4 linked regions of the Homo sapiens genome follow. The protein of the gene in region 1 purifies or fractionates together with the protein of each later gene. This does not show direct contact. Each region holds a gene or a part of one and is shown in the gene's direction. Other genes may lie near its edges.

The links.
Region 2: the proteins of ANAPC2 (region 1) and ANAPC1 fractionate together in Homo sapiens (co-fractionation; 8 studies listed by BioGRID and IntAct, with this or other methods). This does not show direct contact.
Region 3: the proteins of ANAPC2 (region 1) and ANAPC16 purify together in Homo sapiens (co-immunoprecipitation; 5 studies listed by BioGRID and IntAct, with this or other methods). This does not show direct contact.
Region 4: the proteins of ANAPC2 (region 1) and NEK2 purify together in Homo sapiens (affinity purification with mass spectrometry; 4 studies listed by BioGRID and IntAct, with this or other methods). This does not show direct contact.

What each region holds. Positions count from the first base shown.
Region 1 is NC_000009.12:137,185,535-137,192,830, reverse strand, and holds the start of ANAPC2 (anaphase-promoting complex subunit 2), read left to right. Parts: upstream 1-4,270; 5' UTR 4,271-4,298; coding exon 4,299-4,415; intron 4,416-4,727; coding exon 4,728-5,350; intron 5,351-6,474; coding exon 6,475-6,607; intron 6,608-7,296. Other genes in the region: TPRN (taperin), read left to right, coding at 140-380, 466-572, 657-719; microtubule nucleation factor SSNA1, read right to left, coding at 2,917-3,024, 3,566-3,765, 4,053-4,104. UniProt on the Homo sapiens protein: Together with the RING-H2 protein ANAPC11, constitutes the catalytic component of the anaphase promoting complex/cyclosome (APC/C), a cell cycle-regulated E3 ubiquitin ligase that controls progression through mitosis and the G1 phase of the cell cycle.
Region 2 is NC_000002.12:111,881,183-111,888,516, reverse strand, and holds the start of ANAPC1 (anaphase-promoting complex subunit 1), read left to right. Parts: upstream 1-4,323; 5' UTR 4,324-4,575; intron 4,576-7,334. UniProt on the Homo sapiens protein: Component of the anaphase promoting complex/cyclosome (APC/C), a cell cycle-regulated E3 ubiquitin ligase that controls progression through mitosis and the G1 phase of the cell cycle.
Region 3 is NC_000010.11:72,232,984-72,236,366, forward strand, and holds the end of ANAPC16 (anaphase-promoting complex subunit 16), read left to right. Parts: intron 1-17; coding exon 18-133; 3' UTR 134-2,877; downstream 2,878-3,383. UniProt on the Homo sapiens protein: Component of the anaphase promoting complex/cyclosome (APC/C), a cell cycle-regulated E3 ubiquitin ligase that controls progression through mitosis and the G1 phase of the cell cycle.
Region 4 is NC_000001.11:211,672,602-211,679,565, reverse strand, and holds the start of NEK2 (serine/threonine-protein kinase Nek2), read left to right. Parts: upstream 1-3,944; 5' UTR 3,945-4,086; coding exon 4,087-4,182; intron 4,183-5,052; coding exon 5,053-5,270; intron 5,271-5,842; coding exon 5,843-6,083; intron 6,084-6,964. UniProt on the Homo sapiens protein: Protein kinase which is involved in the control of centrosome separation and bipolar spindle formation in mitotic cells and chromatin condensation in meiotic cells.

The sequences.
Region 1 (7,296 bases):
CCTGGAGCCCCCGGAACGGTTGATGGTGTGTCTGGCGCCCCACTTGGGTCAGCCTCATCCTGAGGGCTGAACCTGAGCCCCTGGCATCACTGTGCCCATGTGGGCCCTCAGCCCTCGTTCACGTGACTCTCACTCCCAGATGAAGATCTCCTTCAACGACAAAAGCCTGCAGACCACATTTGAGTACCCTTCCGAGAGCTCCCTAGAGCAGGAGGAAGAGGTGGACCAGCAGGAGGAGGAGGAGGAGGAGGAGGAGGAAGAGGAAGAGGAGGAAGAGGGATCCGGCTCAGAGGAGAAGCCCTTTGCACTCTTCCTGCCCCGGGCCACGTTTGTGAGCAGCGTGAGACCCGAGAGCTCTCGGCTGCCAGAGGGTAGCTCAGGTGAGTGCCCACCTGGGGGACAGGCAGCCTGGGAGGGGTGGAGCCTGGTCTGTGTCCACGTCTGCATGTGCACCTCCATTCACAGGCCTGTCCAGCTACACCCCGAAGCACTCTGTGGCCTTCAGCAAGTGGCAGGAGCAGGCGCTGGAGCAGGCCCCGAGGGAGGCAGAGCCCCCGCCCGTGGAGGCCATGGTGAGATGCGGGGGAGTGGAGCGCTGGGGGGAGTCTGACACCCGGGCGAGCCCATGTGTCCACATTCTGTCCTCTCACTTTCAGCTCACACCCGCCAGTCAGAATGACCTCTCGGACTTCCGCAGCGAGCCAGCCCTGTATTTCTGAGCCCAGCACTGCCAGGACCAAGGCTGAGCCCAGCTGTGGGAGTCCCGGAAGCTGGGCAGTAGCCAGGGACTACTGCACCCGCTTCTGCCTTGTTTGGCCTCACTGTATCCCACCCACCCCTCCTGGCCCTGGAAGCAGCTAGGGTGCCTCCTGCCATCGGGGCCAGGTCTGGGTCTCACTCCCCGGCCCTGATTTGGGAGGGTCCAAGGGGGAAGTGGGGTGGGGAACTGCCTGTGGGTGAGTGCCAGGGGCCTGCTGGGTGGTGGCCATCTGCGACCCGGCAGGGGGCTGTGCAGATTCTGCACCTGGCCATTCCCTGTCCTGTCTCCTCAGCCTGCCTCACAGTGGCCATGGGGTGTCGGGGTGAAGGGCTGTCCCAGCTACTTGTCCTCTGCAGGACCCTAAGCCCCTGCCCGCAGCCCACATGCCCTCTGTGATGAGTGGCGTCTTTCCTGCCTCTGATGATGGACTCAATAAACAGCACTGGACAAGGCTGCTGGTGTCCCCACTGCGTGGTCCTTGGCTGAGAAGGGAGCAGGGGGAGGTCTCTGCAGGAAGAGGCCACATGGGGTCCAGTGGGCCCCAGTTTGCACGTCTATGCCAGGGTGTGTGGGAGGTGACCCCGATCTGGTACCCCCACTCCTTGATGTCCCAGTGGCCAAGGCTCTGACCTCCCAACTTCCATGGCCTGTTAACCTGTTGCCCCTCCACCCCAGCCTCCCAGAGCTGGCACTGTGGGAGGTAGGATGACAGGCCTGCTGTCAGGGGCCTAGACTTCAGGTGGGAGGGTGAGAGTGTTGCAGCTGTTGGGCCTGAAGTGGCTTCTCTGAGGGGCCCAGAGCCTGGGGAGGGACCAAGGGAAGGGCAGCATGAGGGCAGCACAGGGGACGGTGTCTTCTGCTGGGCTTGGCGTGCCCCCCGACCCACAGGATGAGGCAGGCCGGGAGCAGCGCCTGCCTCAGACGGCCAGAGCTGGGGCTGTTTACAGCCCATGGAACCCAAGCACCATTTCCTCCCTGGAGGATCAAACCTAAGAGCAAAGAGATAAAGAGATGCTGTCTGGCCAAACTCCGGCGGAAGGAGAGTTTGGTGTATTTCCCTGGTCGGGTTAGGCCCAGCTCTTTTCTGGACCCTCTGGATCAACACATGCCTCCCAAATCGGCCCAGTCCTCGGGCCATGCTTGGTTGCTGCAGGGACAAAACAGAGGCCCCAGGGCACATGGAAGGATGGAAGTGGCCAGTGCTTGGTGTGCGGCCAGGGAAAGGTGGGCAGCAGGGCCTGGTGGCAGCAGTGGTGTCATCAGGCCAAGCAAAACTTGCAACTGAGGAACCGACGGGGGTGGGGGGTGTGAACTCCCCCCAGTCCTTGCTGAGAGGGACCTGAATCTGAGGCAGCTGCTGGATATGCTTGGCATCCCCAGCTGTCTCTCTGGGCTGGGTCCTATGCTGGCCACCAGGGTGTGGCAGAGAACAGGACGAGCAAGCAGAGCTCCTGAGAGGAGGGTGAGCCGTGGGCCAGTCAGGGGAAGAGGACCGGCGGCCCTGCTGGGGAGGGCTCAGGGTGGGGCTGGCCTGGGGAGGGTGGGCACCCTCAGCGGTGTCCCTGAGGCTAGTGGGGCAGTCACAGGGAGGCCACTCCAGACCCTCCTCCCTCCTCTCCCAAGGGGGAGCCTCAGGCTCTGGCTCTGCAGGTGTCTGGCAGCCCCATGCTGTTGATACGGGCAAGCAGCAGGCTGGCACGGATCTTTACAAAGATAATCTTTATTCATAATCACAGGCCACAGGGGTGAGACCTGAGGTTTGGGTTCTGTGGTGAAGGAGAACCCCTGTCCTCCTGTCCCTTGCCCTGGGCCTCTGCTGGCTGAGGAGGGACAAGGTGAGGGGGCCCCCATGGTGCTCAGACAACCAGAGCCTCCCTGGCAGGGCAGGAGTGTGGGTGCCACAGAGACAAGCCCCTTGCAGAGCTGACCTGGAGCCCACCATCCCCATAGCCTGTGTGAGCATGAAGCGAGGACCCCCGGGTGGGCTGTGCCCTGGGCTTGTCACTGATGCCAGTGGAGGCTGGCACCTGCCCCTCTCGGCACCTGAGACAGTGAGGGAAGGTAGCTGCTGCCGTGAAGAACAAAGATGCTCTGAGCACACACTTGCTGGGGCTGAGCTGAGGGGCACACGGAGGCAGGCCCTGCCCGTGGTCTGGTCAGCTGTCCCTGCCGCCGCTACTTTTCTGGTCTGGGGCTGTAGCCTTGGTCAGGTTCCCAGCTTCCCTCTTGAGAACGCTGAGCAAAGTCTGGGAGCTCTCCAGGATCTGGGGCCAGAGAAGTGAGAAGGTTGTTAATGTTCACCTGTTGGTAAGGTCCTAAGCCCCAGCTGTCCTCACACTCAGGTGCTGGGACCTGGCTGGGGGTGCTGTAGCCAAGGGATCCTGTGTGGGGGAAGGCGGAAGCCCAAGGGGACTGGCAGACGGGGTGGCAGGGCCCTCTTCCCTCCGGAATCTGACCCAAAACACTTCCTCTCCACCCTCAAAGCCAGGCTGGGTTAGCACTGGCCCGTGCTGGGTGCTCTGCCCAAGACCTGGCTCTTCACACTGAGCAGAAATAACCACATGGCTAGCGAGAACCGGATAAAGACCAGGACCCAGGATGCCCCAGGCCCCACAGACAGCCCCACAGTCACTCCCACAGCAGCCTGGGTTCCTCAATGGGCCTGGCCACGCTGCCCCTGCCCGAAATGCCAGCGAGGCACAGACTGCCCACAGCCGGGAGCCCCAGCCGGTCCTGACGCCTTGCCGTGGCAACACCCCTGCCGTGCCTATCCCCTGATGCTCGGCCTGGCCTCCCGAGCTCCACCTTGAGGTAGGCGGCCTCCGTCTCCGCGATGGTCCGGTCGAACTCGTTGCGAGAGGCAATCTTGCGTGCCAGGTTCTCGTTGACGCGGGCCAGCTTCTCTGTCAGCTGCCTCACCTCATTCTGCAGCCGCTGCTTCTCGTCCTCCTCCTCCTGGATCTGCCGGCACAGCTCCTCCCGCTTCTGGCACAGCTCCTCTATGCCTGGGGGCCGGGAGGGGCGGCGCTGTGGGCCCAGGGCAGGAGCGCGGCGGCGGAGGGCGGGCCTCCTTCCACCCGAGGAAGCCAGAGTCAGGCACCACCCCCGAGCGCCCGGCGCGGGGCCTGCGAGCCAGCGAGGGCTCGGGCCACGGACACCCGGCCTCCGGCACGGAGGGCTCTGCTCAGCCGCGCGATGCCCGCAGCGAGGCGGGTCCAGGGGCACCCCGCTGCGAGCCGGGAACCCGGCCCTGCGGCCCTCCCGACCTCCCCGTCCCGGCTGCGCCGCTCACACTTGACCAGCTCGTTGTTGTAGTTCTGCAGCGCCGCGCCCTGCTGGGTCATGGTCAACGCCGCCCGGGGCCCCACCACCCCAACCGCCGCGGAAGCAGCGCTGTCCGCGCCTGCGCACGACTCCCCCACGGCGCGCCGAACTAGCGCGTCATCGCTGAGCGCCTTGTGCGCGTCATGGCTGCGCGTGCAGACGTGCGTCATCGCCGCGCGCCGCGCCGAGCGAATCTCGGAGTCGGTGGGTGCAGATGGCGGCGGCAGTTGTGGTGGCGGAGGGGGACAGCGACTCCCGGCCCGGACAGGAGTTGTTAGTGGCCTGGAACACCGTGAGCACCGGCCTGGTGCCGCCGGCTGCGCTGGGGCTGGTGAGGCCTGGGAAGAGAGGGGCGGCCCCGCGCGGAGTTTCCGGGACCGTACGCGCTTTGGGGCCGCTACCCTCGGGTTCATACGGCTCTGTCCATCATCCGCCTCTGTCCTGTCCTGCCATTTTCCACCACCTTTCCGTTTCGTTTCGTTCAGCTCCGCTGACAGCCCTTCCATAGCTTCGGCCCAACGTCCGGGCAGCACGGACAGGGGGCAGCGGAGTTTTTGCAGCCTCCCCCTCAGCTTCTTCCCTTCCCCGCCTCTCCCCACCTCTATGTTGTGTTCCCCTCGCCTCACGGTTTTCTGCACCCCAGGTGTCTTCCCGGACCAGCGGTGCAGTCCCGCCAAAGGAAGAGGAGCTCCGGGCGGCGGTGGAGGTTCTGAGGGGCCACGGGCTACACTCGGTCCTGGAGGAGTGGTTCGTGGAGGTGCTGCAGAACGATCTGCAGGCCAACATCTCCCCTGAGTTCTGGAATGCCATCTCCCAATGCGAGAACTCTGCGGATGAGCCCCAGTGCCTTTTGCTACTCCTTGACGCTTTTGGCCTGCTGGAGAGCCGCCTGGATCCCTACCTGCGTAGCCTAGAGCTGCTGGAGAAATGGACTCGCCTGGGCTTGCTGATGGGCACTGGTGCTCAGGGGCTGCGAGAAGAAGTCCACACTATGTTGCGCGGAGTCTTGTTCTTTAGCACCCCCAGAACCTTCCAAGAGATGATCCAGCGTCTGTATGGGTGCTTCTTGAGAGTCTATATGCAGAGTAAGAGGAAGGGGGAAGGGGGCACAGACCCGGAACTGGAAGGGGAGCTGGACAGCCGGTATGCCCGTCGCCGGTACTACCGGCTCCTGCAGAGCCCGCTGTGTGCAGGGTGCAGCAGTGACAAGCAACAGTGCTGGTGTCGCCAGGCTCTGGAGCAGTTCCATCAGCTCAGCCAGGTCTTGTGAGTAGTCTGTCCCGATGGCCATGCCCTTGCTCCTTCTGGTTCCCCGCTGCTCCCCTGGGTCCAGCTGGCCTCAGCAGAAAGCTGGTGAGCCGTCCTGATAACCAGGAACATGACAGAGAGAGAGTCCCAGGGATTCCTGTGCAGCGTGTCCTGGACACAGGTGTCTCTCTTCTGTCACTCACCTTCAGTCCCACAGATTCATGCCTTGACCCTGGTAAGGCCCTATGTGGCTTGTGTCTGCAGCAGCAAATTTCTTAGCAACTCCAAACTTCCTGGACTCTGCAGAATTCCACTGTGCCTTTTGTCGATCCTGGGGAGGAATGATTCTCACCCTCGTCGACATTCCTTGCCCTGTAATTGTGAACAGAAGCTTGCTGCTGCTTCTCTCCAGGAAGATCAGGTCACTGTGAGGGCAAGCAGTCTCTTGTTAGTTTGGAGAGGAGAGGGGTTTGTTGTGAGAGACAGGTCCTGTTGTAGTTCTCTAGCAATTGTCATACCCTTGGCCATTTGTGGTGGTTTTGTCACATTGAACGGGGGTGTAGCCATGCAGCTACTTGAGAGGTCTTAGGTGGACTAAAGGTGGACTAAAGGAGTGCTCCTTTTGCTGGCAGGGGTCAGGGAGACCGTGAAGGGCTTCTGTTGGGCTCATCCCTGCAAAAGTTACACGGCAACTTTTCTCATCCTCCTCTTGAGTCCTTTTGTCACTGTAGACCAGAGACTGCACTGAAAGGCACAAACAGTGGCATCTGTACCTCTGCGGCCAGGGTAGCAGTGCAGTTGGTTGTCGTTTCAGAGTTGATCCTAGGAGATAAGGCTAGGGCCCCCGACAGCCACACCTGCTGCCACTGATCACATGGGGAAGGCCAGTGTCCCTACCTGGATAGAGGCCAGCTGGGCGGGGACAGCAGAGCCTGGGAGTGCTCTGTGCTCCCAGTGGCTTCTTGAAGCCTTTGGTACAACCGCCCCCCACAGCTGAGGATTGTGGGGAGGTGTGTGCTGGGTGTGTGTGTGTGTGTGTGCTGCATGCACTCTACAGGCAGGGCAGTCCTGGCATGGGGCTGTTCTGGGCTAGAGGGGCCGGTGTGTGCTCTGGGTGCCCCATGGCCAGGGCTCTCCTCTAGACACAGGCTCAGTCTGCTGGAGCGGGTCAGTGCCGAGGCTGTGACCACCACCCTGCACCAGGTGACCCGGGAGAGGATGGAGGACCGTTGCCGGGGCGAGTACGAGCGCTCCTTCCTGCGTGAGTTCCACAAGGTGAGGACCCCTCCCTTGGGCTGTGCCCCGCTGGAGACAGGGGAGTAGGTTTCTGGCAAACCTGACACCTGGCTTCAGAAGCATCCAGAGCACGGAGGCCTGGGTGGGCCCAGACCGGGTGGTGGCTGGAGCTGTCTTGATGTGGGGTAGAGACCAGTACTTCTGGGCCCTGGTGATAGCGAGGACGCATCTGAGGTGCGCTCTTCGGATCTGCGCAGAATCCCATGGCTGCAGGCGGTATCGGGCCAGGATCCCGAGGGGGCTACCTCAGGCAGGTGTGGCGAAGCTGGGCCCACCAGAGGAGCCACTGAATGGATCCCCTTCTCCTGTTTGCTGCCCTACTTGAGTGTGGACTCGCTTGGCCGGTCCCTAATGGACTGACCTACAGCCAGCCTGCACCACAGCGGGGAGCGAGACACCCTCACATGGGGCCTCCAGGCACCTGTGCTGTTGGGGTGTGGTCTGGGGCTCTGCTCTGGGCTCCCGGAGCCATAGGGGAGCTGGGCCCAGCCATGTGGGTCCCCCCATCCTGTTCCCATGTGTCACCTGTCCTTTCCTCAGTGTTTCAGAGTCCCCCTACTGAGGTGCAGATTGGCTGTGATGTTGGGTTTTCAAAGAGGGAGGGTGTCCCCAAAGCGGTGGGCAAGAGTGGGTAGTAGGGTGGAGAGGGTGAACATCCGTGCGGTCTT
Region 2 (7,334 bases), on another chromosome or scaffold:
AGATCCTTCAACAGGGTGTGGGCTGGGCATGGTGGCTCACGCCTGTAATCCCAGCACTTTGGGAGGCTGAGGTGGGCGTATCACAAGGTCAGGAGATCGAGACCATCCTGGCTAACATGGTGAAACCCTGTCTCTAATAAAAAAAATACAAAAAAATTAGCCGGGCGTTGTTGGCGGGCGCCTGTAGTCCCAGCTATTCGGGAGGCTGAGGCAGGAGAATGGCATGAACCCAGGAGGCAGAGCTTGCAGTGAGCAGAGATAGCGCCACTGCACTCCAGCCTGGGTGACAGAGTGAGACTCCATCTCAAAAAAAAAAAAAACTAAAAAAAAAAACCAGTGTGTGGCTATCATTTTTACTGGAGTGACTCTGTATTGTAACCATTGCTGAACTATTGCTTTTTCTTCTGCAGTACTCCCTAGCAAATATCCTTTGTTAGCTTGCTTGACTAGATGAGCTGCTATAGTAGTCAATCCTGTTAGACTTGGACCATTGTTTGTTTGAAGAACCAGAATCTGTCACTCATCCTGAGCACTTTATTTATTATTCCCCTTACTCAGTCCCAGGGACTTCTCTAGTAGTGACAACTTGGCGGCTGCTGCCATCTTCTGGCGGTAGCTCCTGGAAGAGACCAACGTTTAACTTTTTGAGAACCTGTCAAACTGTTTTACCAAGCGGCTGCACCATTTTACATTCCTATCAATTATGTACAAGGGGTCAAATAACTCCAAATCTTCATAAACACTTGTTATTGTCTGTCTTTTTGATTACAGCTATCCTACTGGGTGTGAAGTGGTTTTGGCTTACATTTCCCTAATGACTAATGATGTTGGTCATCTTTTATCGTCCTTTTTGGCCACTTGTATAATATATTTTTGGCAAAATGTCGTTCAAATCCTCTGCCCATTTTTAGACTGGGTTGTCTTTTTATGTTGAGTTGTAAGACTTCTTCACATATTCTGGATAACAGACTCTTATCAGATTATTTGCAAATCTTTTCCCCCATTCTGTGAGTTGTCTTTTCACTTTCTTGACAATACCTTTGAAGCACAAAATTTAAAACTTTTCTCCAACTTATCAAATTTTTTCCTAGGTTCCTTGTGCTTTAGGTACCATATTTAAGACATCATTGCCTAATCCAAGGTTATGAAGATTTACAGCTATGTTTTCTTCTAAGTGTATAGCTTTACTCTTTTTTTTTTTTTTTGAGACGAAGTCTCGCTCTTGTACCCCAGGCTGGAGTGCAATGGCGTGATCTCGACTCATTGCAACCGCCGCTTCCCAGGTTCAAGTGATTCTCCTGTCTCAGCCTCCTGAGTAGCTGGGATTACAGGCGCCTGCCACCACGCCTGGCTATTTTATTTATTTATTTATTTTTTGTATTTTTAGTAGAGATGGGGTTTCACCATGTTGGCCAGGCTGGTCTTGAACTCCTGACCTCAGGTGATCCGCCTGCCTTGGTCTCCCAAAGTGCTGGGATTACAGGCGTGAGCCACCGCGCCCGGCAGCTTTACTCTCATATCTGGGTCTTTGATGCACTTTAATTTTTGTATATGGTGTGTAGTATGAATCAAGATTCATTTTTTCCATCTGAATATACAAATATTGCAACACTAACTGTTGAAAAGATGCTTCCCTCCTTCATTTGCTTTTGCAAGTTTGTAAAACAACAACAAAATCAACTGGCCTCACTCTGTAACTGAGGGCTGCACATATTGTCTTCCTTCCAAAGAGTACAATATGGAAAGTGGGGAAATGTAACATCATAGTAGAGAAATCTGACAAACACTATCTCAGTTAGGTGATCAAGGTTGACATCAGCAGCGATAAGTGATACTGTTGATAAGTACCTTTGATATGATGTGATGAAAATGACACTTTATGATCTTCCTTCCTGAAATCCATATCCCCAGGCTAATCATGAAGAAACATCAGACAAATTTCAGTTAAGGGATATTCTACAAACTAATGCAGTGGCTTGCACCTGGAGTCCCATCTGCTTGGGGGGTTGAAGCAGGAGGACTGCTTGAGCACAGGAGTTCAAGGCTGCAGTGAGCTGTGTTTGTGCCAATGCACTCTAGCCTAGGCAACACAGCAAGACTCTCTTAAAAAAAACTGAATAAAGTATGAATTTTAATTACTAATAATGTGTTGATATTTCATTAATTTTAACAAATGTACTATACTAATGTAAAATACTAATAATAGGGAAACTGGATGTAGAAACTGGGTATAGGGTATGTGGGAAATTTTTGGACTATCTGCAGTTTTTCTGTAAATCTAAACTTTATTATTATACTTTAAGTTTTAGGGTACATGTGCACAATGTGCAGGTTAGTTACATATGTATACATGTGCCATGCTGGTGTGCTGCACCCATTAACTCATCATTTAGCATTAGGTATATCTCCTAAAGCTATCCCTCCCCCCTCCCCCCACCCCACAACAGTCCCCAGAGTGTGATGTTCCCCTTCCTGGGTCCATGTGTTCTCATTGTTCAATTCCCACCTATGAGTGAGAATATGCGGTGTTTGGTTTTTTGTTCTTGCGATAGTTTACTGAGAATGATGATTTCCAATTTCATCCATGTCCCTACAAAGGACATGAACTCATCATTTTTTATGGCTGCATAGTATTCCATGGTGTATATGTGCCACATTTTCTTAATCCAGTCTATCATTGTTGGACATTTGGGTTGGTTCCAAGTCTTTGCTATTGTGAATAGTGCCGCAATAAACATATGTGTGCATGTGTCTTTATAGCAGCATGATTTATAGTCCTTTGGGTATATACCCAGTAATGGGATGGCTGGGTCAAATGGTATTTCTAGATCCCTGAGGAATTGCCACACCGACTTCCACAAGGGTTGAACTAGTTTACAGTCCCACCAACAGTGTAAAAGTGTTCCTATTTCTCCACATCCTCTCCAGCACCTGTTGTTTCCTGACTTTTTAATGATTACCATTCTAACTGGTGTGAGATGGTATCTCACTGTGGTTTTGATTTGCATTTCTCTGATGGCCAGTGATGGTGAGCATTTTTTCATGTGTTTTTTGGCTGCATAAATGTCTTCTTTTGAGAAGTGTCTGTTCACGTCCTTCGCCCACTTTTTGATGGGGTTGCTAAACTTTTTTTTTTTAAAAAAGTTTAAAATATTGGCCGGGCGCAGTGGCTCACGCCTGTAATCCTAGCACTTTGGGAGGCCGAGGCGGGAGGATCACGAGGTCAGGAGTTCGAGACCAGCCTGGCCATCGTGGTGAAACCCTGTCTCTACTAAAAATACAAAAGTTAGCTGGACGTGGTGGCGGGCGCCTGTAATCCCACCTTCTTGGAAGGCTGATGCAGGAGAATTGCTTGAACTCGGGAGGCGGAGGTTGCAGTGAGCCGAGATTGTGCCACGGCACTCCAGCCTGGGCGAAAGAGCGAGACTCTGTCTCAAGAAAAACACACACACACACACACACACACACACACACACACACAAACAAAAGTTTAAAATATCAATTAGGTATATTTGTATTTAACTGTTTCATGAATCTTTGTTTCTAACCTTTCTCCTATAACCCATTCTTTTTTTTTTTTTTTTTTTGAGACAAGGTCTTGCTCTGTTGCCCAGGCTGGATGGAGTGCAGTGGCGCGATCATAGCTCACTGTGGCCTCAAACTCCCTGCTCAAGTGATCCTCCAGACTCCCAAGCAGCTGGGACTACAGGTGCGCACCACGCCTCCAGGCTAATTAAAAAAATTTTTCTTTTGTGGAGACAGGGTCTCGCTATATTGCCCAGGCTGGTTTCAAACTCTTGGGCTCCAGCAATCCTGTCGCCTCGCCTCCCAAAGTGCTGGGATTACAGGCGCGAGTGGCCGCTGGGGTTCTTAACTTGGGTCTTTGAATCGCCTTAAGAAGTGTCTCTGAATCTGGGAATTGCAAGCAACGTTTCTGTGAGGACCTTCACACAGTTCATCCACTCTTCGAAGAGTATGGACCGAAAAAGGCATAGAGCATTCACTGCACGTAGAGAAAATCAGCAACCCCTGCTCCCCACCCTCAGCCTGAGGTGCCTACCTCCACGTGGGGTCAGGAGGCGGAAGCGAAACCAGAAGAAAAAACCCTGAGATCTATAAGGCAGTTCAGGTCCCTAGTGACATGAGCTAAAGAGAACTTGGACGCCAGGACTGTAGCAGACAGAGTCCGGCTTCGGGGTTCGCATCAGTCGCACGGAAGGTGGAAATAGCCCCCAAGTTGTAACCCGCCGCGGTCTTCCCTCAACAGCGCAGGCGCCAGGACTGCTAGGACGCCGCGCACCTCCCGCGATGCCCCGCCCCGGCGCGAGGCAAGACGGGAAAGTCAAGATGGACGCGTCCATTTGAACGTCTCGCACGCCTTCCTGCCATTAGCACTCGAGCCCGCTGCTGTTGCCCGTTCTTCCTCCAGAATAGGGGAGGGAGAGGGAATGAGAAGCTGCTGCGGCCCAAGAGTCACTGTGAAGGACCCCGCCGCTGCCCTCGGGCCTCCTCGGCCCCTGCGCCTCCGGGGAGCAGCCGGGGCTCGCCGCGCCTGACGCGTCCCGAGTTATACAGGTGCGGGCGCCGTACCGCAGCACTTGGTGGTCTGTCGCGCGCCGCGTGACTCTCGCACCCGTCCCGAGGCCGAGCCTCCCCTGGTGGCCGTAGGTCTGGAAACCCGGGGTACTGGGAACCCGAGGGAGGGCCTTGAGCGTGCTCCGGGGCTGAGGGGGCCTGCGGGCGCTCCTGGCCTGCGGGCTGGGGTGCTCCTTCCGGCTCCTGCTTGCCAACCTCTTTCCTGAGCTGTGCGTAGCATCCCATGTGCAGCCTCAGCTTTCAGACTGGCCTCCAGCCCCTCTGAGCTGTTTTTCTGAGCCTCGGGCTCTCAGCCTGTTTTCACCGTCCTCTAGAAAGGCTGGGGAAGCTCTTGTGGAGACTTAAGCTCCCGTTAGTGTGCATTTGGGTCTCTTTTTTTTTTTTTTGGCAGGGTAGTGTTTGTAGGAATCATTGCTGATACTGTTATTTATAGCATATAAATTTAATAGTATTTTTACGTGTAGCTGTTTATGTTGCACCTAACAAGTAAAAACATTTCTAAAAGTTTGGGGTACTGAAAAAGTATTAAATATGTGGCATTAATCGGTACAAAATGATAATTCTTTAACAATTCTGTAATTTTCTCTCAAAGTTATAAGAAAATAACATTATAAAATTGCAGAACTAAAGTTTCATAAAGTCAAAAGTTCGTTGATGTTGGTTATTCTGTTGAATAAAATATAGGAAGACCAGCTGAATTTTGTTTTCTTTTAAGGTTTTTTTTTTTGTGGGGTTTTCTTTTTTTTTTTTTTTTTGAGAAGGAGTCTTGTTCTGTCTCCTAGGCTGGAGTGCAGTGGCGCCATCTCAGCTCACTGTAACCTCTGGCTCCCGTGTTCAAGCAATTCTCTGCTTCAGCCTCCCAAGTAGCTGGGATTACAGGCGCCCGCCATCACTGTCTGGCTAATTTTTGTATTTTTAGTAGAGATGGGGTTTCACCATCTTGGCCAGGCTGATCTTGAACTCCTGACCTCGTGATCCACCCGTCTCGGCCACCCAAAGTGCTGGGATTACAGGCGTGAGCCACCACGCCCTGCCCCTTGTAAGTTTTATAAGGCACTTTTTACTTGTGTTCCAAGTTCAAGTGTCCCAGTACTCATTTATTTCTAGCAGGAGGAAGAACAAAACTTGTGTCATGTTTTGTGACATAATTATATCCAGAATAACTTTTCTTTTTTTTTTTTTTGAGACGGAGTTTTGCTCTTGTCCCCCAGGCTGGAGTACAATGGCGCGATCTCGGCTCACTGCAACCTCTGCCTCCCAGGTTGAAGCGATTCTCTTGCCTTAGCCTCCCAAGTAGCTGGGATTACAGGCGCCCACACCATGCCTGAGTAATTTTTTTTTTTTTGTATTTTTAGTAGAGACAGGGTTTGACCATGTTGGCCAGGCTTGTGTCAAACTCCTGACCTCAGGTGATCCTCGCGCCTCAGCCTCCCAAAGTGCTGGGATTGCAGGCGTGAGCCATCGTGCCTGGCCAAGAATAACATTTAATTCACAGCAAAATAACTTTGTGGCTTTGGAGGAGCTGCAAAGGAACTACATAGGCTTTGGCTGTTTGTGTAACCATATAGGATTCTTGCCCTATGAGCAGCAAGTCAATACACGGAAACAACGGGGATTGCAGCAGATAAAGTGTTTTACTTGCAGGGCCACCGAACTAGGAGACTGAGGAAACTTCAAGTCAGCCTCCCCAAAGAGTTAAGGTCTAGAGGTTTTTTTTTTGCTTTTGGTTTTTTTTTTGAGACAGAGTCTTGCTCTGTTGCCCAGGCTGGAGTACAATGGCATGATCTCGGCTCACTGCAACCTCCGCCTCCTGGGTTCACGCCATTCTCCTGCCTCAGCCTCCCGAGTAGCTGGGACTACAGGTGCCCGCCACCAAGTCCAGCTAATTTTTTGTATTTTTAGTAGAGATGGAGTTTCACCATGTTAGCCAGGATGGTCTCGATCTCCTGACCTAGTGATCCGCCTGCTTTGGCCTCCCACAGTGCTGGGATTATAGGCGTGAGCCACCGCACCCGGTCCAGAGGTTTTAAAGAGAGGGTAGTGGGTTAAGGTATTGATTGGTCAGAGAATGAAGGATGAAGTCATAGGACAGAGAGATAAACCACATTCTCATGCTAATGTGGTTCCTTGATGGGGTCTTAAGACTAGCTTGCATCATCTCAAAAGTCTTAGGCTCCTAACATTAAAAATGCTGTCTATAGGAACATGGTATATATAAACAGGTACAGGAAAGTGGATCGAAGGACAATCTAATTATGCTTATCTGTACTTTTGTCTAAAGCCTGGCTGCTACCTAACCTTGTGATGAAGGCTTTAACAGTTCATCCACATTTTTTTAGTAATAAACTGTACTGTAATAGATTAATAATTAGATTAATTAGATGTAATAATTAATTAAAACCTAGTACCCTTAAATCTGCAAGCATAACTGTTCCATGGCTAGAGTTATTCATGCCTCGGTTCTTTGGGTTTCGACCAATAATTGAAATTGATTGTAGTTATATATTTAGGTGGGATTGGGGGTGTCACAGCTACTTAAGACATTTGAAAACCTATGTCTTTTGTAGATTGGTCAGCTGAAAGCAGTTCAACCTCTGATGAATTAGAGTAATGTGTGGTTTTTTATTGTTTTATTCCAATATGACAATGATCCCTTAGATGTACTTTTCAAATGAGGTTCTGGCATCTAACCAGAAATGACCTTAAATGTTGAAAAGCCATGTAGTTATGGGACCATA
Region 3 (3,383 bases), on another chromosome or scaffold:
TCCTTGACTCCTTACAGATCAGCAAGTTGCTCGGATGGAAAAACTAGCTGGTTTGGTAGAAGAGCTGGAGGCTGACGAGTGGCGGTTTAAGCCCATCGAGCAGCTGCTGGGATTCACCCCCTCTTCAGGTTGATACTGCCTGGATGGTCACCTCTGGTGCGCAGCAAGTGCAAAGCCAGTGGGGGACTTTCTCACAGCTTACATAGCCATCCAGAGATCCACAGCTACGTCACTGAATTGTTAATGCACATTTGTACTTGGTTTCTCTGTATCTATTCACAGGCAACAAATACTTATATGTGTGATCTTTCAGGGAATGTTTTGTTTATTTGTTTTTAAAAGTATTGGGAATCAGATTAAGACAATCAGTTTCAGAGAACCAGGAGGTTTGGGGTTAAGAGATACTCAAAAATTTTCACAAGCCAAGTAGGGCATATATCAGATTTGGCCAACTGAATGGCGTCTGTCCTGTCATCCATATGGTGCCTGGAAATATTTACCAGTCAAGGTCAAGGTCAGCATCTGTGGTTAAAAATATAGCATTCTGACCTAAAAAAGTTATTTTGCAGATGAATGTGTTTTCAACTCAGGACCTATCCAAATGAGGAATTTTTAAATATTCTTTTTTTTTTCCTATTTTTAGACATCAATTCTATAGATTCTGACTTTTTCTAACCTCTTATAGACATGCCAAATGCTGGCAAAAAGAAGTGCTTTTTGGATATGGCAGCACTTGTAAAAATAAAGCAGTAAGCAAAATCCTTTTAAACACAGAAATCCTGAGTTCTTCTCATTGGTGGACTCAAGCAATTCTGTAGCAAATAAATCCTTTGAAAGAGCTCCAAATTGGTGGCATTATCCTTTCAAAATCTCAGGGATTTGGGATGAAGTGAAGAGGTCAAATTACTTTTTAGAAGAAGGGAATCTAAAAACCATCTCTCCTAAACAAATGGTAGACTGGCTTTACTTAAGGGATATTTGTCTTTATAGGAGTACATAAATTTATCTTAATGATATTTAAGTAGTTTTTTTTTTTTTTTGAGACGAAGTTTTGCTCTTGTTGCCCAGGCTGTATCGCAATGGCGCGATCTCTGCTCACTGCAACATCCACCTCCCAGGTTCAAGCAATTCTCCTGCCTCAGCCTCCCAAGTAGCTGGGATTACAGGCACCCGCCACCACACCCAGCTAATTTTTTGTATATTTAGTAGAGACGGGGTTTCACCATGTTGACCAGGCTAGTCTCGAACTTCTGACCTCAGGTGATCCACCTGCCTCAGCCTCCCAAATTGCTGGGATTACAGGCGTGAGCCACCTTGCCCAGCCAATTTTTTTTTAAAGAGACATGGTCTTGCTATGTTGCCCAGGTTGGTCTTGAACTCCTGGCCTCAAGAGATCCCCCCAACCTTGGCCTCCAAAGTGCTGGGATTACAGGCATGAGCCACCGCGCCTGGCCTCAAGTAAGTTTTTATACCATGATAGGGGAAAACCTGGAAGGCTAAGAGATGTGCTGTTTTCCTTCATGGGACCCCACTTTCCACAGTAAACAACTGGTATAATCATTTATTACGTTGTATGCAAATTTTGCCTTAGACAACATTTGTCTGGTTCCTTATTAATAACTTGCATCTGATCTGCTTAGAGTTGCTTAATTATAAGTAAATATAATCCCAGTAGCATTTAGCCTTAATCTCAAGAGTTCAAAATGTTTAACACATTCTACCTGACGGGAGGTGGTGACCTCATTCAGTCGGTTAAGAGCCTGAGCCCTGTGAAGTTAAACACCTGCTCATGGTCACATAGCCCAGGCAGAAGAAAATCTCGGACTTGGAATAGATCCCAGTTGCCTGATAATTCATCTCATTATTGCCTCTAAAGCAAATTGGAGACTGGGCACAGTGGCTCCCACCTTTAATCCCAGCACCTGGGGAGGCTGAGGTGAGTGGATCACTAGAGGTCAGGAGTTCAAGACCAGTCTGGCCGACATGGTGAAACTCAGTCTCTATTGAAAATACAAAAATTAGCTCAGTGTGGTGGCACACACTTGTAATCCCAGCTACTCAGGAGGCTGAGGCATGAGAATCGCTTAAACCCAGGAGGCGGAGGTTGCAGTGAGCTGAGATCACACCATTGCACTCTAGTCTGGGTGACAGAGCGAGACTCTGTCTCAAAAAAAAAAAAATAAAGCCGGGCGTGGTGGCTCACGCCTGTAATCCCGGCACTTTGGGAGGCTGAGGCAGGCGGATTGCCTGAGATCGGGAGTTCGAGACCAGCCTGGCCAACATGGTGAAACCTTGTCTCTACTAAAACTACAAAAAAAATTAGCCAGGCGTGGTGGCGGGCGCCTGTAATCCCAGCTACTCAGGAGGCTGAGGCAGCAGAATCGTTTGAACCCGGGAGGCGGAGGTTGCAGTGAGTGGAGATCGTGCCTGTGTGCTCCAGCCTGAGCAACAAGAGCGAAACTGTCTCAAAAAAAAGAAGAAAATAAATAAATAAAAATCAGAGCACAAGAAGTACCAGTCCACCAACTCACATTTTCTATATTAATAATTCTTAACTAAAAGAAGTTCCATATTCGACAGCATTTTAGTTTTTTAATAGTACTTATTAGCATCAACCATCTTGATAATCACCAAGGGAAAAATTAAAAATACCTAGACTGCAATAAACCTTTAAATTGGATTTTCAGTGAGAATTTAGAAGCAATCACTACCTTTCTCGTTTCATTTGTGTAACCATGCAGCATAGGCACTGTGTTACATCATCTTTACGCTTTGGTATTTGAACTTATTACAGAATTTTTTCTCTAAATTGGATGTTTCTTTATATGACCTTGGAAACTGAAGTGATCTTAGCATTAAACAAAAATGCTTTTTGAAGCACCTTTCTCATTGATCACTTAGCTGCTATTTTAGTCTTACCAAGAATAAGACTCTCACAATTTTTTAAAGAGAGTACCTCCCTCTCTATACCTTTTTGTCAGTCATTATGTTGCATCGTCCACAACGCCTGTTACTATGCTTTGGGCTCAAAGATGGTCCCAGTTGCTGATCTGTCATCTGTCTTCTCTTGTGCCAGTCACTCACAGGCATGAATTATAATCCTCTGAATAACACAGCAAGATACGTAATACCCCCTAATATAGAAAAGGAACTTGAAGCTCAGAGCAAGTGTCACTTGCCAAGGCTGCACAGCTAAGTCAATGGCCAAATCTGGATTTAAGTTCAACTCAGCCAGAATCCAAAGCAGCTTCTTTTAGATTCACTATGCCACATCCCACCAAACCCAACCCAGCACATTGTATTAGGAAAAATCCTAAAACTTTTGATTAAATGGTAAAAGGAAGTAACTACCTGGAGAAAATAAGGCTTCCGCTACCTTCCGT
Region 4 (6,964 bases), on another chromosome or scaffold:
CTCAGCCTCTATTTATACTTGTTGGAGGATGAATTTTCCATTTAATAAGGCAGAGAAGATACATGCACATGAGAAGCTAGTAATATGGCCTAGTATAATTCTAAATGAGTAAAAACACAGTTGATTACTCTTAAGAGTAATTAGAAGATAGATCATAGTGGGTTGAAGTCAATCAGGAAAAATTTCAGAGAAGAAATTGGGCATGAGCTGAGACTTAAAGAATGGATGGAATATGAAGGAAAAAGGAAAGAAGTTATAGGGGAAAGGATGTTCCCTGTAACCTGTCCCTGTTTGACTCCCACATGCTTCTCATCTCCCAGTGTCTCTTTCTATTCTGGTGTCTAGTGGTCTCTGCTGGGCTGTCCTGCCCTCACTCATGATGCGGGCTAACTCTGGCCAACCTTTAGGGTTTGTCATGTGAGTGATTCCTATGCTACCCTTTTTTTTTTTCTTTTTTTTGAGACGGAGTCTTGCTCTGTCGCCCAGGCTGGAGTGCAGTGGCGCGATCTCGGCTCACTGCAAGCTCCGCCTCCCGGGTTCACGCCATTCTCCTGCCTCAGCCTCCCCAGTAACTGGGACTGCAGGCGCCTGCCACCACACCCAGCTAATTTTTTTGTATTTTTAGTAGAGGCTGGGTTTCACCATGTTAGCCAGGATGGTCTCGATCTCCTGACCTCATGATCCGCCCACCTTGGCCTCCCAAAGTGCTGGGATTACAGGCTTGAGCCACCGTGCCCGGACTTTTTTTTTTTTTTTTTTTTTTTTTTTTTTTTTGAGACAGGGTCTCGGTCTGTTGAGCAGGCTGGAGTGTGGTAGTGCAATCTTGGCTCACTGCAACCTCTGCCTCCCAAGTTCAAGCGATTCTCCTGCCTCAGCCACCCAAGTAGCTGGGACTACAGACGTGCCACCACACCCAGCTATTTTTGTATTTTTAGTAAAGGCAGGGTTTCACCATACTGGCCACACCCAGCTAATTTTTGTATTTTTAGTAGAGGCGGGGTTTCACCTTATTGGCCACGCTGGTCTTGAACTCCTGACCTCAGGTGATCCGCCTGCCTCGGCCTCCCAAAAGGCTGGGATTACAGGCATGAGACACCACACCCAGCCTCCTGTGCTACTCTTTATTATTGTCTTTGGGGCTCCACTGTCTTTTTTTAAATGAAAAGCCAGCATGTCAATACCTATCATACCTGGGCCATAGCAAGTGCTCAATAAATACTTGTTAAATGAGCATATGTGCGTAGGAGCCACATTCCATACTCTTGGGATGGCTCCTTTCCAGATATTTCGTCTCTGCCTAGAGCTGGGGCATTTGGCAATTGAGTACTTGAGGGCCCACTCAAAATCCTTGCATAATTATTAATAAGGGGCTTTCGCAGATTTTTATTTAACGAAGCTTTATTGCATGCCTTCTCTATTACAGGACTTATGCTGGCTATAAGCAGTTCGGAGTTCAGCTACTGTGAGAGCCATGTAAACAAATAATGATAAGTTTTGATTTATGTATAAAGTGGTCTATGAACACTGTAGATGGAGGATTGACTGTCCAAGTACGCCAGAGAGGCTTCTCAGATTACAGGAGAAAAAGTTGGAATTGAATCTTGAAGGACACGTTATGTCCTCTGGGCAGACATGACTGGAGTGGATAAGGGAGTGGGTTGGACAGTATTCTGGACAAATGCAATCACAGGTGCAAAGATGGTGGTGGTGGTGAGGAACTGAGAAAGTGTGCGTTTAGAGCAAAAGCAGAAGTGGCCAGAGAGAAGGTGCAGGACTGGATTTGGGGCAGGATAACCAAACGGCTCATTTTTTTTTTTTTTTTTTTCTTGAGACGGAGTCTCACTCTGTCGCCTAGGCTGGAGTGCAGTGGTGTGATCTCCACTCACTGCAACCTCTGCCACCTGGGTTCAAGCGATTCTTCTGCCTCAGCCTCCCGAGTAGCTGGGATTACAGGTGCCTGCCATTGTGTCTAATTTTTGTATTTTTAGTAGAGACGGGGTTCACCATGTTGGCCGGGCTGATCTTGAACTCCTGACCTCGTAATCCACCCGCCTTGACCTCCCAACGTGCTGGGATTACAGGTGTGAGCCACCGTGCCCGGCCAGGGCTCTGTCTTATACAGTTTCATGTTGCTATAATAGGATGCCACAGACTGGACAATTTATAAACAATAGTTTATTTGGCTCACGGTTCTGGAAGCTAGGAAGTCCAAGATCAAGGGGTAGCATCTGGCAGCAGCCTTTTCTCTGGGTCATAAAATAGCAGAAGGCATCACATGGTAAGAGAAACAGCAAGGGAAAGCCAAACTCATTTTTATAACCAACCGACTCTCAAGATAACCCACTCCTGTGATTACGTTAATCCATTCGTGAGGGGTAGCCCTCATAACCCAATCAATTTAAAGGTCTCACCTCTTAACACTTTTGCATTAAGAATAGTTTCCAACACATGAACTTTGGGGGATACATTCAAACCACAGCAAGCTCTATGGATACCAATCTGTAAGAGGCACAAAAATAAAAAAATGATGCTAATTAACACAGCCACTTGCAGTGCCTTACATAACTTTTGAAACCTAAATTGGTCCTATTCCCCTGAGGTAAGACAGTGCCCTTGAATGTTAATTTAAAAATTCTCCTGGTTGGCAATTCCAATTATCTTATGTTATATTCAGGGCATGTAATAAGTCCCTTATTTTTACATAAAGAGCTTTTAAATTCTTATTAATAGAAAATCAGGTGTCTTTTAATCCTTTGCTGAACAGATATTTAAAGAAAACTGGCCTGTTCATGCATTTCCAAATTATTAGCTTTCTGGTAATTTACATATTCCTCTAACAAGCCCTGGATGGAGGCCTCTAAGTCCTCCTTCCCTGGTAAACATGGGGCTGTTCATTTGGCTGGGTAAGCTGAGAACGTTGGTGTGTGGGTGCGTAAAAGAGAATCTGTGTTCAATGAAGTATTGTCGATAGGGTTAATTGTGTATTTGGCACACATAAACGGGACAAGACGTGTAAAGTACTTGGTAGGAGAGCGACAGTATTTCTCCTTTTTTTTTTTTTTTTGGAGACTGGGTGTCACTCTGTCGCCCAGGCTGGAGTGCAGTGGCGCACGGCTCACTGTAACCTCTGCCTCCCAGGTTCAAGCAATTCCTCATGCCTCAGCCTCCCAAGAAGCTGGGATTACAGGCCTGCAACCCCATGCTCTGTTACTTTTTTTTTTTTTTTTTTCATTTTTAGTAGAGACGGGGTTTCGCCATGTTGGCCAGGCTGGTCTTGAACTCTTGGCCTCGAGCAATCCGCCCGCCTCGGCCTCCCAAAGTGCTAGGATTATAGGCGTGAGCCACAGCGCCCGGCCTAATTTTCGTATTTTCAGTAGAGACGAGGTTTGCCCTGTTGCCCAGGCTGGTCTGAACTCCTGGGCTCAAGCGACCCACCCACCTCGGCTTCCCAAAGTGCTAGGGTTACGGGCGAGCGTGAGTCACCGCGCCCACCCGGGAGTCTGTATTTCTAATTTGTATTCAGCTCTCAGCATATCCTCAACGTGACCCCACCCAGGTTCAGGGTACTGGAACCTGAGCGAGGAATGCGTGTGCCGGGGAGAGTAGGTAGTGTGAGGGGCCAGAGTGCAAAGGTCAGAAGGCATCTGGTGGAAGCGGTGTGCAAAGAAGCCTGAGGGGAGGACCTTAGATCTCGGTTACCTTGGCGATCTCTATCAGAGGGTTAGAGTTGCCGAGAGGCGCCAGCTGCCGCTTCCTCTCTCCCGCCCTCCGTTTGGCTTAGCTCGCCGGGTTCTCCCACAGGTTAAAAGCAGACGCCGACGCGGTTGCCTAGTGACACTTTTCCCAAAATGCCTAGGGTATTGTTGTGTTCTTCTTAGCCAATGAGAGAGGCGAAGCGGCCCACCGCCTGCCAATAGACTGCGAGATCAGGGCCCGCGACGGTTAAACGGGGCCCAAGGCAGGGGTGGCGGGTCAGTGCTGCTCGGGGGCTTCTCCATCCAGGTCCCTGGAGTTCCTGGTCCCTGGAGCTCCGCACTTGGCGGCGCAACCTGCGTGAGGCAGCGCGACTCTGGCGACTGGCCGGCCATGCCTTCCCGGGCTGAGGACTATGAAGTGTTGTACACCATTGGCACAGGCTCCTACGGCCGCTGCCAGAAGATCCGGAGGAAGAGTGATGGCAAGGTGAGCGTGGGACCTACCCTGCGCCTGCCCCTGCTTAGGTTTCGTCGCCTCGGGGCGAGCGCCCTGCGCCACCGAAGGGAACCGACAGGGCTGAGGAAATGGGTGCCCGGAAGACTAAACCGTCTTTCCTGGGTCTGCATCTGACAGCCTGTCCTGGGTGGCTTAAAGGATGGGAGACCGCTTCTTTTGATATATGTATTTCCATCTTTTCCCGTTTCTCTCCCCATTTCTCTCTTTCTCCTGCTTTGGCTTGCTAAGGACCTTCCATTGGTGACAGGTAACTAATTCCTGAGCTGTTTTTAGAGCTCTAAGAGTGGCCCTCTCAGGCACAAGAAAGGGGCAGGACTACCAGAACCCGAAGCTTTGTATCTGCAGTCAGACTCCCTCAAAATATCCATTATTAGGATTATTGGATTCATATTTCCCAATGTATATAGGTAGAACTTTTACAGAAAGTAACATTGGACAGGAAACTGCCTGGCTGCTGATGGAGGGATCTTTACCAAGGTGTCTCATCCTGGGAAAACACGACTGGGGTGGAATGGGGCAGGGACTTTGACCACCTTCACCCCAATTTTGACTATAGTACCTTTTAGCCAACTTCCCACTAACCAACTGAGGGTAGGGGTTGGGGGAGTCCTCATGTGCCTCATTCCCGTTTGTCTCCCCACAACATACATTTACTGCTTAGAACTGGAGGAAGATTATGGAAGTAAACTCACAGCTCCTTAAGTTCATTGAACTAAATTAGATAATGACCTTGATTGTAGGATATAATTAAAAGGGAGGTAATTTGTTAAATCTTGGAACTTTCATTCTTTGTTTTTGAGCATAATGAGTTCATTCATACCTTGGAAATTCTTATTTCAGATATTAGTTTGGAAAGAACTTGACTATGGCTCCATGACAGAAGCTGAGAAACAGATGCTTGTTTCTGAAGTGAATTTGCTTCGTGAACTGAAACATCCAAACATCGTTCGTTACTATGATCGGATTATTGACCGGACCAATACAACACTGTACATTGTAATGGAATATTGTGAAGGAGGGGATCTGGCTAGTGTAATTACAAAGGGAACCAAGGAAAGGTAAGCATAATCTTTTAAAAATGTAAGCTGAAATTGGTCTAGTTTCATTTATTTTAAGCATCTTGTTTTAGGATCAGTAATATGGAAGAGTGTATTTGTATTTGTTTGGTAGGTCCACAGTACTTTAGAAAATTCCTGGTGAATCAACACCCATATTTTATATCAAAATAACAATTTATAGGCTGAGTGTGGTGGCTCACACCTGTAATCCCAACACTTTGGGAGGCCGATGCGGGAGGATCACTTGAGCCCAGGATTTCAAGACCAGCCTGGGCAACATAGTGGGACCCTGTTTCTACAAAAATTAGCCAGGTATAGTGACATGTGCCTGTAGTCCAAGCTACTTGGGAGGCTAAGGCAAGAGGATTGCTTGAGCCTGGGAGGTCGAGGCTGCAGTGAGCCATGATCGTGCCACTGCATTCCAGCCTGGGTGACAGAGTAAGACCCTGTCTCAAAAAATATAAATAAATAAATAAATAAATTCCCTATTTGTACACTGGATAATTTATATCATCCCATCTTGGCAATGATTTTTTTAGAAGTTATATGCTGTATAACTGCTTTGGTTTTAGGCAATACTTAGATGAAGAGTTTGTTCTTCGAGTGATGACTCAGTTGACTCTGGCCCTGAAGGAATGCCACAGACGAAGTGATGGTGGTCATACCGTATTGCATCGGGATCTGAAACCAGCCAATGTTTTCCTGGATGGCAAGCAAAACGTCAAGCTTGGAGACTTTGGGCTAGCTAGAATATTAAACCATGACACGAGTTTTGCAAAAACATTTGTTGGCACACCTTATTACATGTCTCCTGTAAGTATTTCAGAATTTAGCTACTTTTTAAAACATCTTTTATTTTTGTTTTCTTGTTTGTTTGTTTTTGAGACAGAGTCTCGCTCTGTTGCCCAGGCTGGAGTGCAGTGGTGCGATCTGGGCTCACTGCAATCTCTGCCTCCCAGGTTCAAAGGATTCTCCTGCATCAGCCTCCTAAGTAGAGTAGCTGGGACTACAGGTGCATGTCACTATGCCTGGCTAATTTTTGTATGTTTAGTAGAGACAGGGTTTCATCATGTTGACCAGGCTGGTCTCGAACTCCTGACCTCAAGCGATCTGCTCACCTCAGTCTCCCAAAGTGTTGGGATTACAGGCGTGAGCCACCATGCCCAGCCAAAACATCTTTTAATGTTAAGCATTCTGAAGCAGGGAAATTGAGTTTTCTGTTTGTTTAGTAATATCTAGTAGCCAAGAATTGAAAATACTGTTATATTTTTCCACATGGACCACCAGACCAATAAAGTCTATATCAGTTTTTGTTTGCTGCATGAGTTATGTGCATTAATGTAAGTATGATGAAGACAGATTCCTAGTCTAAGGTTTGCGCCGTTTGTCATCTCTCACTGGGTTCAATTTTTTGAGCATTCATGCAAATTAAAGCATATTCAGTTCAAGCTTTTATGGAATGACTATGATGCATTAAACTCAAGGATTACAAAAATGAAATGGATTTTGTCCTTGCCCTCAAGAGTTGTTTCCCAATGTGTAGGTCCTAGTTATCTGCATCAGACTCACTTGGAGTGTTTGTTTAAAATGCAGAGTTCTGGGTCCCAAACCCAAACCCAAATCCATCGAGTGAATTTCGATCTCTGGGTGGGTTCTTGAACTCTGTTTTTTTTTTTTTTTAATATTTTACTTTT